4 linked regions of the Homo sapiens genome follow. The protein of the gene in region 1 purifies or fractionates together with the protein of each later gene. This does not show direct contact. Each region holds a gene or a part of one and is shown in the gene's direction. Other genes may lie near its edges.

Region 1 (5,309 bases):
ATTGATGATATTATCTTTATTTAGAGATAAGGGGACTGAGACTTAGATATGGTAACTTGTCTATAGTCACACAGCTGGTTGGCGCCCTAGTGAGGCCAACACAAACCTAGTTTAGTTCAGCTCCAGAGCCCCAGCTCAGTCAGCTATGTTACTCTGCCCCAGCAATGTAGGTTCCTGGGCCTGCAGAGCCAGAGGAGACCTGTGGAGAAGGAAAAGGGGCTCCAGGAGCCCCCCAGTCCCTGGCCTACCTAGGGACTTCATCTTGTGTTTACTGTCCCCAACTTCCTATTCCTCGTTATTGGTTCCTGAGCCACCGGGGTTAGCAGACCCTGGTCTCTGAAGCATTTAGCCTACTGTGTAGTGGTTTCATTCCAGGCAGAAAGAGCCTTCTCTGAGTTCTTTTGTGTCAGCCATGCCCAGGTTGCTGTTAATGGGGCTGTGGGGAGTCTTCCTTGCTTTCCAGGGAGAGTCACAGCCCCCACTTCCCCTCCATGGTATCTGCTTTCTCATTATTCTCTGAGGAACCACACACATAGTCTTTCCCATCTTGAGCTCACCCTAAATCCTGCATCTCCCTATAGCTGCTTCTTCATATTGGCTTGAAACTATCTTCATGGTCACTTTCCAGCACTCCCTCTACAGCAGATGACCTTTGGTCATAAGACCCACTGAACTGATACTCAGCAAGGTCCCTGCCACTTAACAGCCAAAGCTGGCACTGCAACCTTGGCTCTTGGCCTCCCTTGGTGTCTCTCACACCACTCCCGCTCCCTCTGTTTCTCCTATCTTTAGTTCATTCTCAGGGTTATTCATTGTCTGTTCTTTCTGGGTAGGTGCTCCCTGGAGCTCTGGCCTTAGTCATCTTCTCCATTCTTTCCTCAGAGTTCCTGCAAGCTATTTTCCTCACCCATGGCTTGGTTGCCACCTAAATTTATGTTTTTTATATTCAGCTAATTTTTCCATCCTCTAGACTCATATGGCAAACTGCCCACCAGACATCTTCTTCTCTGTGGTCCACAGGACCTTCCCACTGTCCTCAACAATGCTTCCTGGTGGGTTTCTGGGGCTCCCCCTAAAAAGGCCCCTTCCCACTTGGGAGATGGGGAATCTGAGGCTAAGAGGTGGCTGTGAACCCCAGTCCAGGGCAGGGCTGGGCCATCTGTCTGTGCTCACTGTGTCAGTGGCCCTTTAGGATATGCAGTCTAAATGTCCGATGGAGTTCTGCTTGGTGATGCCCCCTATCCAGTGGCTCAGGCTTTCCTTGAAGTGGGAATCTCTTTCCCTAATCCAGAGGCTCTTTGGAGCCTGACAATTTACTTCCCCTGCTGTAGGAACCAAGTACCAGGCAATGCTGAGTGTGGATGACTGCTTTGGGATGGGCCGCTCGGCCTACAATGAAGGGGACTATTATCATACGGTGTTGTGGATGGAGCAGGTGCTAAAGCAGCTTGATGCCGGGGAGGAGGCCACCACAACCAAGTCACAGGTGCTGGACTACCTCAGCTATGCTGTCTTCCAGTTGGGTGATCTGCACCGTGCCCTGGAGCTCACCCGCCGCCTGCTCTCCCTTGGTAAGGAGATTCTAGGGGAAGGTAAGATGGGAATGGAGAGTGGCAGAGGAACTGCACTGTGCTGGCATCTGCCTGACCCCTCTCCTGGGACTGAGTCAGTTTACCCTGTCACTTGGCCAGTGACTAATGCCTTACTGACTTTAGGACCAGTCCAGCTTCTTACTAGCTCCTTACCCACCTCAATCCTGGCCTTAGGTTTGCGCAGTCGCTGATAGATACGCTCAGGCCTGTGGCACTTGTGGGCCTTTTTAATAAGGACTCTGTTATGGTGTATCTGTCACCATGCAGGACTACACAGGGTGGAACCTTTACTACATCAGGAGCAGCTCAGGAGTCAGGTTGTACTTTAGGATTGTTACAGTGACAAACAGTAGCGGTGCTATTAGAGGCCTGAGGTCTAATAGTAGGACTTCATATGGCATTGATACTTTGTGTGCCTTGTGCTGTTGGACTGAAGAAGGCCAAAAGCACTGTGCCTTTAAAACTCATCTACCTTTTTTTTTTTTTTTTTTTGAGACAGAGTCTCACTCATCCAGCCTGGAGAGCAGTGGCACGATCTCAGCTCACTGTAACCTCCGCCTCCCGGGTTGATGAGATTTTCCTGCCTCAGCCTCCCAGGTGGCTGGGATTACAGAGGCACATGCCCCATGTTGTATTTTCTTTAGTAGAGATGAGGTTTTACCATGTTGGTCAGGCTGGTCTCGAACTCGTGACCTCACGTGATCCACCCGCCTCGGCCTCCCAAAGTGCTGGGATTGCAGGTATGAGCCACCGCACCTGGCCTCTGTTGGTTTTCCAGTTACGACCAGCGTACTCTGGTTAGATGCTGTGGAAGGTAGAATGCAGCATGCAGGTGAGCTGCTGGGAGAGAAACCCTTACAGAATAATTTCTCTAAATGACCTAACAGATGTTTGTGGTTTCCTTTTCCTTCTCATTCCTTGCATTTTCTAGACCCAAGCCACGAACGAGCTGGAGGGAATCTGCGGTACTTTGAGCAGTTATTGGAGGAAGAGAGAGAAAAAACGTTAACAAATCAGACAGAAGCTGAGCTAGCAACCCCAGAAGGCATCTATGAGAGGCCTGTGGACTACCTGCCTGAGAGGGATGTTTACGAGAGCCTCTGTCGTGGGGAGGGTGTCAAACTGGTGAGATGTGTGAGGGGGCTAGGGTGCCAAAGCTGTGGACCTGGACTCTGGCTCTGGGCAGGCAGATTTGGGGAAGGTGTTCTTTATTCTGTAGGTACTTTTCTCAGTATATCCCCCAGTTTTTCATGGCATCTCCTGAGGCTGACATGTGGATATTCTCTGAGGTGTAGGAAAGGAGACTCTCTCCCCTCGTGCCCCAGGTAGAGTGTTGCTCCTCTAAGTTACCAGTGAGCTCGCCTCCTTACCCCAATATGTCCCACTTTTTGCTTCACTCACTGTTGGGAAGAAAACAATGGGTGGACGTACCTCAGGCCCCAAAAGAAGTCATGGTATAAGTGGAGAGTAAGTCTCTGTGGTAAAGACACCAGCGTGTACTAGAGCTTGGTATCGAGCCTTTGAGAGCCCTGGGATCCTAGTGCTTCCTGAGGAGGCCCAGGTGTGACAGGCTCTGAGCCTTTTCCATGCCCCTGTCTGCATGGCTTCTACTGGCTCCTCCACCAAGAAAGGTTTCTCCCCTGTCCCAGCCCTTCAGACCTACTCAAGTCTTCACGAAAAGGGTCAGGAATTACTTTCTGCCATGGGACTTGAGGATGTGAGGTGATTTTGGGAGAGAAGAAAAATTGCATGATTTGTGGGGTGTTATTTCATGCCAGTTAAGCTGAAGGGGCTCTCCTCTCCTCTCCCCTCCCCCCATTCCCCCCTCTCCTCCCCTCCCCCCCTCCCCTCCCCCTCCCCTCCCCCTCCCCTCCCCCTTCTCCTCCTCTCTCCTCCCCTCCCTCCCTCCCTTCCTTTCTTCCTTCCTTTTTCTTCTCTTTTTCCTGTTTCCTCTTTTTCCTTTTCTTTTCTTTCTTTCGTCTCACCCTGTCGCCCAGGCTGGTGTGCAGTGGTATAATCATAGCTCACTGCAGCTTTGACCTCCCAGCCTTGAGCAATCCTCCTGCCTCAGTCTCCTGAGTAGCTGGGACTACAGGTATGCACCATCATGCCTGGCTAATTTTTTAGAGACAGGTCTATGTCATCTAGGCTGGTCCCAAACTCCTGGTCTCAAGCTATCCTTTGGCCCCCCAGAGTTCTCGGATTACAGGCATGAGCCACTGTGCATGCCCACCTGCTGGGACTTTTGTTTTCTTCTGTGGTGTGGTGGGAGGGAGCAGCTGCTGGCCATGAGGTGAGTCCAGTGTCTGCAGACAGCCAGACTGGGACCGAGGATTAGGACTCACTCAGCTCAGGGCCTGTTACTCTGTGCTTTCCAGACACCCCGTAGACAGAAGAGGCTTTTCTGTAGGTACCACCATGGCAACAGGGCCCCACAGCTGCTCATTGCCCCCTTCAAAGAGGAGGACGAGTGGGACAGCCCGCACATCGTCAGGTACTACGATGTCATGTCTGATGAGGAAATCGAGAGGATCAAGGAGATCGCAAAACCTAAAGTAGGTGTCACTGTAGGTCCTTCTCGGGTCACTGAAGGGGGAAGGTCCTTTTTCTCATCCCTAGCACTATGGGTGGTTGGTTTGCCCATCTAGCCACCCTTTATCCATATCTAGCATGGGCCTACCGTGGGGATACAGAGATGCTTCAGACTCAGCCTGACCTTGTGAGTTCATGGTCCAGTGGAAGAAGAACAGGGTAACCAATGTGGACAGCCAAGTGCTATCATAGAAGGTCACGCTGGGAACAGGGCAGGTCTACACTGGTGTGTCAGTTCACCTGGTTGGGAGACTGGTGCGTGGGTGAGTTTTTTGGAAATGTTCCATAGGATGCTATGAAGCTGGGTCCTGTGGAGCTCCTGATTAGGACTGTAAATGAGGTGAATGACTTAGAGGAGAATGTATATCTTTATAATATTGGGTCTTCTCATCCAAGGGCATGACAGGTCTCTCCATATCTTTTTAAGTTTTCTTCATATAAGCCTTGAACATTTCTTAAGTTTATTCCTTGGTAGTTTCTTTGTTACTGTTAATTTACTTTATTTCTTCATTATTATTTTTAACTGGTTACATTATTTTATTAGTTTACTATTATATGCCAAACTATTGATTTTACAAATACATTTCATAGTAAGAGCTAATGTTTACTGAATTCTTAACTGTGGCAGGAACTTCTAAGTGCTTAACATATATATTAAGTGTTATGTCACAGTTATGAACAGCTGCTCATAATGATGTCACTGTCTCTGTTTTACCTATGAAAAAGCAAACTCATACAGATTGCAGCTAGTGGTTGAATTTACTTATTTCTTTTTTGGTTTTTAGCTGATTTCTCTTTGGTTGCCTGGATAGCATTAACACCTGGAAATAAGGAAAATTTTATTTTCTCCTGATACTTGTAGTTCCTTTGTTTTTATAACCTTATTGAATTGCCCAGAACTTCTAGAGCATAATTACGTAGAATAGGCATCCTTGTCTCATTCCTGAATTTCCTGGAAATTCCTATGGTATTTTACTGCTAAGAATGCAGTTGGCTGTTGGTTTTGTATATATGCCATGTTTTAAAATTATTCTTCTGTTTCTAGTTCATAAAAGATTTGTTCCCCATTTGACATCTTTCAAAGAGACCTATTTGCTGCCATATCCCATCACTGATGATTGGGAG
Region 2 (3,500 bases), on another chromosome or scaffold:
CCACTGAGGAAATATTGTTTCCTCAGTACAAAGCCCTGAGGCAGAAATCTCCCCAACACCCTTAAGGGACAGTGGCTGAAAAACTGAGCAGGGGGAGAAGAGGAGACAAGGTCGAAGAGGTCAGGATCCTGGGGAGTCCTTAATAGGCTATCATGATGACTTTGGCTTTTTCTTCCCCTCAAATGAGGAATCATTGCAGGATTTTGTCAGAGGAGTGACGTGATCTGACCTTTTTTTTTTTTTTTTTTGAGACAGAGTCTCCTTCTGTCACCCAGGCTGGAGTGCAGTGGCGCTATCTTGGCTTACTGCAAGCTCCACCTCCCTGGTTCAAGCAATTCTCCTGCCTCAGCCTCCTGTGTACCTGGGACTACAGGCGCCTGCCACCATGCCTGGCTAATTTTTTGTGTTTTTAGTACAGACGGGGTTTCACCGTGTTGGCCAGGATGGTCTCGATCTCCTGACCTCGTGATCTGCCTGCCTTGGCCTCCCAAAGTGCTGGGATTACAGGCGTGAGCCACCGCACCCGGCCAATCTGACTTATTTTTAAACAGAATCACTCTGGCTACTGTGTTGAGAAAAGACCCAGGGGGAACAAAGACTGGAGCAGGGAGTCTTTTATCAGAGCTGATAGTAGCTCTGATCCAAGTGATAGAAGTGGAGACAGTGAGAAATGATTAGATTTGAGATCTGTTTTGAAGATAAAGGCAGAAGGATTTGCTGAGAGATTAGACATGAGGTGTGATGTAGTTGTCATTAACTGAGATGGGGAAAATGGGGAGAAGCAGGCTTTTGGGGGAAGATCAGCAGCTCAGTTTGGGATGTGTTAAATTGGGGGCATCTTTGAGACACACAGGGGTGTCAAGCAGCTGGGAGTTGCATGAGTGAAACTAGACCTCAAGGGAGAGGCCTGGGCTGGAGACACAAATTTGGTTGTCGTCAGCAGTGATGGTATTTAAATCTGTGAGTCTGGATGAGGTCACCAAGGGAGTGCGTGTGGATAGAAAATAAATGAGGTCCTCCACTCAGCCCTAGGGCACTCCAGCGCTGAGAGGTTGGGAAGTTCAGGCAGGATCAGCAAAGATGACTGAGAAATGACAGTCAGCAAGGTAGAAGGAAAACTAGGAGAATGTGCTGTCTTCAAAGCCAGGTGAAGACAGTGTTTCAAGGAGCAGTCAGAAATCAACTGTGGCAGATGCAGCTGCATAGTGGCCAAGGAAGATGAGGGATGGAAAACTGCCTGCTGGATTTAGCAGCATGGAGGTCACGGGTGTCCTTGAGAAGTGCAATGTTGCAGAGCAGTGGGGGTAAGGCCTGGCTGAAGCATTTCCTCCTGGCAGAGATGAGGAGACGTGGATATATTCTTCGGGGCAGGTGCTGCTTACCAAGCCCCTGCCAGGTGCCACCGATGATGTACCCGTCTGTACCAACTCCCCATGTGTGCCAACAACTCCATGAGGGAACTGTGGTTACACAGGCTCAGGGCTTGCCCGAGGTTCGCCGGGAGCCGAGGTCCTCAGTCAGGCCTGTCAGACTCTGAAGCCTGTGACCTTTCTGCTCCACTGCATCTGATGCCTGGGTGCAGGTTCTTCCAAGCCTCACTCCTCTACCTCCTCCCAGCCTCCTTTCACATAGCGAGTCAGGACCTTGCTGGGGACTCACTGACTGTCTTGCCTGGTGGGTGTGATTTGCCTAGGTGTAGACAAACACCCGCCTACCAGTTTTCCTTGCAACACCTGCAGCACGCACAGGTGCTTGGAGAATGGCAATAAACAGACCTCACCCTCAACCTTCAAGCTTAATACTTACACACCCAGGCTTTGGCTTCAGACAGTCCTGAGTTCAAATCCCAACTCTAGGCTGGGTGCGGTGGCTCACGCCTGTAATCCCAGCACTTTGGGAGGCTGAGGAGGGCGGATCACGAGGTCAAGAGATGGAGACCAGCCTGGCCAACATGGTGAAACCCCGTCTCTACTAAAAATACAAAAATTAGCTGGGTGTGGTGGTGCCTGCCTGTTGTCCCAGCTACTCTGGAGGCTGAGGCAGGAGAATTGCTTGAACCTGGGAGGCAGAGGTTGCAGTGAGCCGAGATCGCACCACTGCACTCCAGCCTGGCAACAGAGTGAGACTCCATCTCAGGAAAAAAAAAAAAAAAGCCCAACTCTGCCACATACTAGTTCTATGACTCTGTGTGGATCACTTTGCAGGTTGGGCCTTGGTTGCCACACTTGTATAATGGGGATAAGAATCTCTGCCTCTCAGAATTGCGAGGACACAGGGTGCACCACTGTTAGTGAGTAGTAAGCACTCACTAGAGTGAGTAACTGGTTTTGTTGACTACTGGAATTGGTAAAGGAGTTTGCAGTTGGCTGGGAAATAGATTAGCAGTGACCAGGCAGCCGTCTCCTGCTGGTATGGGAAGAGATGGGTGGCTTGTCATGTAGCCTAGGAGTTGGTGGAGTTGGTGGAGTTGGAGGGGTAATGGGGAAGACAGGGCCTCAGCTGGGGCTCTTGCCTGGATCCTAGCAAGCTGGATGGGAAGGAATGAGGCGGAAAATAGTGTGAGCCTCAGATAATTTATTGCGTAACACCTATTCCCTCATATTGCCTTCAACAAGGCAGGAGGGTATAATGGGTAAGGACAGGCTCTGATGATGGCTACTGGGTCCAAGTCCAGGCTCCCTGACTGACCAGCTGAATGATCTCAAATTACCTCTTTTTTTTGCTTCATCTTTTTTTACTTTACTGTCCTCATCTATATGAGGACTCCTTCATAACTATTGTCAGTGAGGATTAAAACTAATAACATATAAGGCCGGGTGCAGTGGCTCATGCCTGTAATCCCAGCACTTTGGGAGGTCGAGACGGGCAGACCACCTGAAGTCGGGAGTTCGAGACCAGCCTGGCCAACATGGTGAAACGCCGTCTCTACTAAAAATACAAAAATTAGCTGGGCGTGGTGGCAGGTGCCTGTAATCCCAGCTACTTGGGAGGCTGAGGCAGGATAATCACTTGAACTTGGAAGGCAGAGGTTGCAGTGAGCCGAGATCGTGCCAATGCACTCCAGCCTGGGCAACAGAGCAAGGCTCTGTCTTGAAAAAAAAAAAAAAAGGCCGGGCGCGGTGGGCAGTGGCTCACGCCTGTAATCCCAGCACTTCGGGAGGCTGAGGCGGGCGGATCATGAGGTCAGGAAATTGAGACCATCCTGGCTAACACCGTGAAACCCCGTCTCTACTAAAAATACAAAAAATTAGCCAGGCGTGGTGGCGGGCGCCTGTAGTCCCAGTTACTCGGGAAGCTGAGGCAGGAGAATGGGGTGAACCCAGGAGGCGGAGCTTGCGGTGAGCCCAGATTGCGCCACTGCACTCCAGCCGGGGTGACAGAGCGAGACTCCGTCTCAAAAAAAAAAAAAAAGAAAAATGTTTCCTTAGATGAAGCTTCCCACAGATGCCGGCCCTGCTCCCTAAGCAAGTTGGTAGCTGTGTTCCCATTGATCTCCTCAG
Region 3 (2,271 bases), on another chromosome or scaffold:
CCCCGGGGCAGCAAGAATTTATGCTGCCATTGAAAAGCAGGTACCAGTGCCCCTTTTCAGACAGTTTTTGATTCGCTCTAGACTTTTTTTTTTTTTAATAGGGAAAAAATTTGATAATTTTCTTTTTTCTACATGCACTTAAGACTAAAACACAGGTTTGGATTAATTTTATTTGCTTCCTTTTTCCGCTTTTCTTCCCGCAGAGCCTGATGGGAGAATGTCCAGGGCAGGGAAACCACATTTTTTGTAGGTGATAACTCAATGAAAATTGGTGCTTATTTTTTACACTTCTCTCTTGTGGCTCTCTTGTGGTGCTATCTATCTGTTTTAAGGTCTCCTTGAAGGCGCACTGGGGACCCTGGCCATGCCTCGTTCTCCCTGCTTTCTTTATCCTGTTATTGCCTCCACAGTCTGTTGCCAAGGACTCTAAGATCAATGCACGTCACTTTCCTTTCCACTGGGCAGGATAGCCAAGCACACTCCCTCCTGCGCTCTCCCGCCCCGGTGCGTCCACTCCCGAGGGCTGTTATGAGGACTGGGTTGTGCCTACTTGATTTGAAAACACACACAAGCAATAAAAAGCCTCTTCCTGCATTGTCTGTGGTGTGACCATAGCAGATTATATTTGGTTCCTGAATGTTTGTGGTGCTAATTTCTGTGTTTGTTCCAAGCCGTTCAGTCATGCCATGCGCTGCCTCGGTAGATGGAGTAATGTACAATGAACTCCATGAGTCTCTCCAGGGCTGCCTGCAGCACGTCTTTTCCAAGTAGCCTATTTGGATTCCCATCTCAAATGTCCTGGATGCGAGCGTCAGCGGCTCCAGAGCTCGGGGCGGGTGAGGTCCCCTTTGGGGAACCCTTTCCTGGCCATCGAGGTCGGGGGGCTGCCGTCTGTGGGCAGGAGGACCCGAGGGGCAGCCAGGAAAGGCGATCTCTTCACTGTGAAAAGTTGCCCGGGTGCAGCGCCTTTTCCTTCTACCATGGGAAATGCAGGCTGGGCCCTTGGGGTGAGCCTGCGGGGCTCTGGTGCTGTCCCCGACCCCCACCACCACCAGAATGCAGTTCCAGCTTAGGAAGCCACAAACAAGCCACCCAGGAGGAACAAAACACCGCCAGCGTGGATTTTCCAAATTTCCCTGGAAAGTAAGTCTCGCTCTTGCCAAAGAAAAGTCTGGCTTGGAGAGTCTCTGGAGCCCAGGATGCCAGCATGTGCCAATGACTGTCACCTTCATCTCTTCAAAAGAAAAGCCATAGCCGAGGACTGTCCCGCGACCCCCGTGGACTGCGTCTAGGTCATGTGATTCTGTTTTCATTTCTCATCCCATCCAATTTGTCCTTTTCTCCTGTCATTTTCTTCCTCTGTGGTCCCTTCAAAGTTGTTATAATTTGTACTGAACTTCAAAATGTGTCCCGTTCTCCCCAGACCACTCTAGCCACAGTATATTGCAATAAAATTACTTCTTATATTTGCAGAAATTCTTTTGGTGTAATTTTATTTTTTCCTCTCAATATATATAATTGGACAAACGCTGGCAAAAAGAAAAAAATGGTAAGCAAAAAACCCAAGATAAAGTTTCGAGGACATCAGGCCTTTTGAAATACAATGTCAAATGACACATTGTACGGTTTCAAAAAATCCGCTAGACATGTCATAAGTTTTAACTGTAATGCCCAGGAAAGGATATCTTAAAATATTCTAAACTTGTGTAACAAAGGAATAATTAACTGTAATAGTTTTTCAATAAATCGAGTTGGGTGTTTCCACCGTAAACAGATGTGAGTGACTCTCTTCTTAAGTGTGGCCAGGCCCCTCCCAGACAGGACTGCACACAGTCCCAGGACGCTAGGAGCTCTGGAGATAACCACACTGGCCACCCAGAGAAAGGAAGGGATGGCCCCGGCTGTCCTTAGGTGGAGCTTGTCCCTCAGGAGTGGCCAAGGCTGGCATGGACAGCTTTGTGCCCTTGGGAGGATGTTAGAACGTAACCGGGCACTAGCCCGAGAAGTGAGTTTCAGCCACTGCTGGGTGTCCACACCACCGTGTACTGTCCTCACTCTTCACTCCTGGCAGTCAGCACCCTGCGAGAATGTTCTTGAAGCTCTCCAGCACTGCCCTTCCAGCTGTGTAGCAGGATTAGACTCCCTAGCTCCTTGTGGCTAGAGGTCGGGGAAGGCACGGGGCTCGTTGCAGCCGATGACCTTGAGCCCACGTGGCATTCGCCTCTTCCGGTCTGAAGGTGTGGTTCCCTCGGGCACAGCACCAGCCATGTT
Region 4 (2,943 bases), on another chromosome or scaffold:
CCCAGCTTCCGGCACCCCCGCCCGGGCCACCCGGCTCCCACTCACCCTCCACACTTGCTGTTGGATGTTTTTGCTGAACCCTTGACTTCCACGCCCGCCCATCCTCATCGCTTTCTTCTTGGAGTTTGATTGCTGTGTGTCTGCGGCAGGACACCATGGAATTGCTTAGCTTGTGGGAGGAGGAGTGTCTTGAGAGAAAGAGATTCAGTGTGGATTTCATGATATTTCACTCATCCTCCGGCCATCTCTGTATTACTGTTCACATCTCTACCTCAGCTTGCAGATCTTTTTCTGTTACCTTCTTTTTCCTTGTTTGGTTTGTAGTAGGCAGCTGTAGTGAAATGCCTAGGCAGCCCATTCTCCCAGAGGACAAGGTTTCTGAGCCCCACCTGTCCCTGTCACCACCTCCCCCGAGACCTCAGGACCCACATGGGCGGAGCACATGCCCTCAGCCCAGTTGAGCAGTCCCAGGAGAGCTGAGGGCCCTGTTTTCAGCAGGAGCAGGGCTCCTCCTCCAGGCACATCAGCCCCTCTGCACTCGCCACACACAGCGCACAGACACCCCAACCTAGGGGTTCCAATTTGAAATCTCAGGCTGCTGCCAGGGCCAAAGTGCTTGTCAGAATGAGACCAGAAGTCCTACTTCTGCCGTGGTGGTCAGAGAGATGGGCCCCTCCCCTGCCCTCACTCCCCACTTTGGTCAAGGCCAGTAACCCCCAGCTGCCCTGCACTGTAGTGAGAGGAGGCGGGGCCCAGTCCAGCCTCACTGAGCCCCACCCTCTGGCCAGTGAGTTGAACTAAAGCTTAGCAGTCAGTGGGTGAATTTTTACATTTGAAAAAAAAAAATCATTCTGACCTAAGTGCTTGAAGATCTTTTAATTTTGATTTCTATGAATTTCCTTTTTAGGGGTCCATCATTAGCAGTCCTCACATGCGCCGGAGAGCTACATCAACACGAGAGTGTCCATCTCGCCCACACCAGACTATGCCCAACTCATCTTCCCTCCTGGGCTCCTTATTCGGGAGCAAGAGAGGGAAGCCCCCTCCCCAGGCCCACCTGCCCTCAGCCCCAGCCCTGCCACCCCCCCACCCACCGGTGGTCCTGCCTCACTTGCAGCACTCTGTGGCTGGCCACCACCTGGGGCCCCCAGAGGGGCTGCCGCAGGCCGCCATGCACGGGCATCACACCCAGTACTGCCACATGCAGAACCCTCCCCCGTACCACCATCACCACCACCACCACCCACCCCAGCACATCCAGCACGCACACCAGTACCACCACGGCCCCCATGGGGGCCACCCAGCCTACGGGGCCCATGCCCACGGCCACCCGCCGCTGCCCTCGGCCCACGTGGGGCACACAGTGCACCACCATGGGCAGCCCCCTGCCCCGCCGCCCCCCACCAGCAGCAAGGCCAAACCCAGCGGCATCAGCACAATTGTGTAGACAGCCTGGGTAGGGGTCCCAGGCTCCCTGAAACACCTGCACACCACACAGGGCACGCCCGGGGGTCGCCAGCCGCACACCAAACCCGGGGCACTTCTGTTGCCATCTCTCCCCTCTGCCCCTCACGGCCCAACCGGAGCCCCAGGAGCCCACAGGGCTGGTGTTGTGTGGAACAAAGGCCCAGATTTCATTTCTTGTTGGCACCCTGGGCTCTGCTCACCTCAGTCTGAGGGATGGGTGGGCCTCAGACACCATCAGCCTTGAAACGGTGAGCCAGCCAAGTAGTGTTGAACTGCCTCCCCCACTCCAGCTCTCAGCTCCCTGTGCCCTAATGTACATGCATATGAAAACCCAACCTAGAAAACGAAGAAATGAGATACAAAAACAGACAAAACAAACCCCAAAACTTGCTGCATTATTGCTCTTTTATTGACAATGGGCAAAAAAATAAGTAGACCTGATATGGTTGATGAAAATACGTAAGTAAACTTTATATAAATATATAAATATATAAATATATATATATATATACTGTATAGGTAGTACTTGTGTGTGAAAGGCAGGCGTTTCAGTCCACATTAGCAATACCCACCTTACAAGGAGCTCCACTTACCTAATAGGAAGACAGTACCTTAGCTGGGTGTGTGAGACAATAGACCAAACCCTAAATGCTAGGAACAAATTCAGATACTTCATATTTTCATACAAAGAAGTCCCTCTAGGACTGGCTAAAATCTTTACACAATCATTACTAACTGTGCCAAGTAACATAGCATCTAACTGTTTAAAAAGTCCAGTATTGCTTTGTATAAATCCTTATTTTATTAACAGAATACTATCATAAATAGTATTATAATGCTGTTATTTCAGGTAAGCAAATAGCTAAACTGCAGTACACTCTACAGTAGCAACTCAGGACAGCTGGTTACAAGCTGGTTGTCTTAGGACATTGGTTACACGGATTCTTAGACACTTTAATGGCTGCGATAACTGTGACTCTCCATGATCCATGTTTCTTTTATGCGCATATGATTTGACGCACACTCATTCAGAGTCCTCCGAGAGGGGCACCCATACACGGCAGAAGTGTTCATCTCCAACATGAAAGTGACCAGCTCTCATCCTCGTCTCCCCAACACCATAACGTCCTCATCCCGCCTCCAACCCACACCAGGCCGAAGCCCTCAGAGAGTGTTTTCATCAGGAACCACTCTCGAACCTGAAGGTTGACTTTAGCGTTTAGCAACCCAGGGCGGTGTGTGTGTTTCCCGTTTTGTTTTCTGAGTGGTAGCAGTGATCACCGTAATTCCATGTAGCCATGTGCTAGCAGAACCCCTGTGTCCTCACCGTGGCCCGTGTGACCCCAGCCGACGAGTGCCCGGCGGAGCCCCCGCTGCCTTCCCATGGTCCAGTGAGCTGCCAGGGCATCACATGACTCTCAGCTGTGCTCTTGTCGCTTCTGTGTTGTGGTGACACCATGCGCTCCCCAGGGCCAG

Evidence for each region. Proteins that work in one complex are often made in the same cells at the same time.
Region 2: the proteins of P4HA2 (region 1) and MAP7D1 purify together in Homo sapiens (affinity purification with mass spectrometry; 2 studies listed by BioGRID and IntAct, with this or other methods). This does not show direct contact.
Region 3: the proteins of P4HA2 (region 1) and COL5A1 purify together in Homo sapiens (co-immunoprecipitation; one large-scale study listed by IntAct). This does not show direct contact.
Region 4: the proteins of P4HA2 (region 1) and IQSEC1 purify together in Homo sapiens (co-immunoprecipitation; 2 studies listed by BioGRID and IntAct, with this or other methods). This does not show direct contact.

Annotation. Positions count from the first base shown.
Region 1 is NC_000005.10:132,206,546-132,211,854, reverse strand, and holds part of P4HA2 (prolyl 4-hydroxylase subunit alpha-2 isoform 2 precursor), read left to right. Parts: intron 1-1,331; coding exon 1,332-1,571; intron 1,572-2,523; coding exon 2,524-2,717; intron 2,718-3,970; coding exon 3,971-4,147; intron 4,148-5,309. UniProt on the Homo sapiens protein: Catalyzes the post-translational formation of 4-hydroxyproline in -Xaa-Pro-Gly- sequences in collagens and other proteins.
Region 2 is NC_000001.11:36,166,160-36,169,659, forward strand, and holds part of MAP7D1 (MAP7 domain-containing protein 1), read left to right. Parts: intron 1-3,500. UniProt on the Homo sapiens protein: Microtubule-stabilizing protein involved in the control of cell motility and neurite outgrowth. Facilitate microtubule stabilization through the maintenance of acetylated stable microtubules.
Region 3 is NC_000009.12:134,843,073-134,845,343, forward strand, and holds the end of COL5A1 (collagen alpha-1(V) chain isoform 1 preproprotein), read left to right. Parts: 3' UTR 1-1,771; downstream 1,772-2,271. UniProt on the Homo sapiens protein: Type V collagen is a member of group I collagen (fibrillar forming collagen). It is a minor connective tissue component of nearly ubiquitous distribution. Type V collagen binds to DNA, heparan sulfate, thrombospondin, heparin, and insulin.
Region 4 is NC_000003.12:12,899,487-12,902,429, reverse strand, and holds part of IQSEC1 (IQ motif and SEC7 domain-containing protein 1), read left to right. Parts: intron 1-907; coding exon 908-1,447; 3' UTR 1,448-2,943. UniProt on the Homo sapiens protein: Guanine nucleotide exchange factor for ARF1 and ARF6. Guanine nucleotide exchange factor activity is enhanced by lipid binding. Accelerates GTP binding by ARFs of all three classes.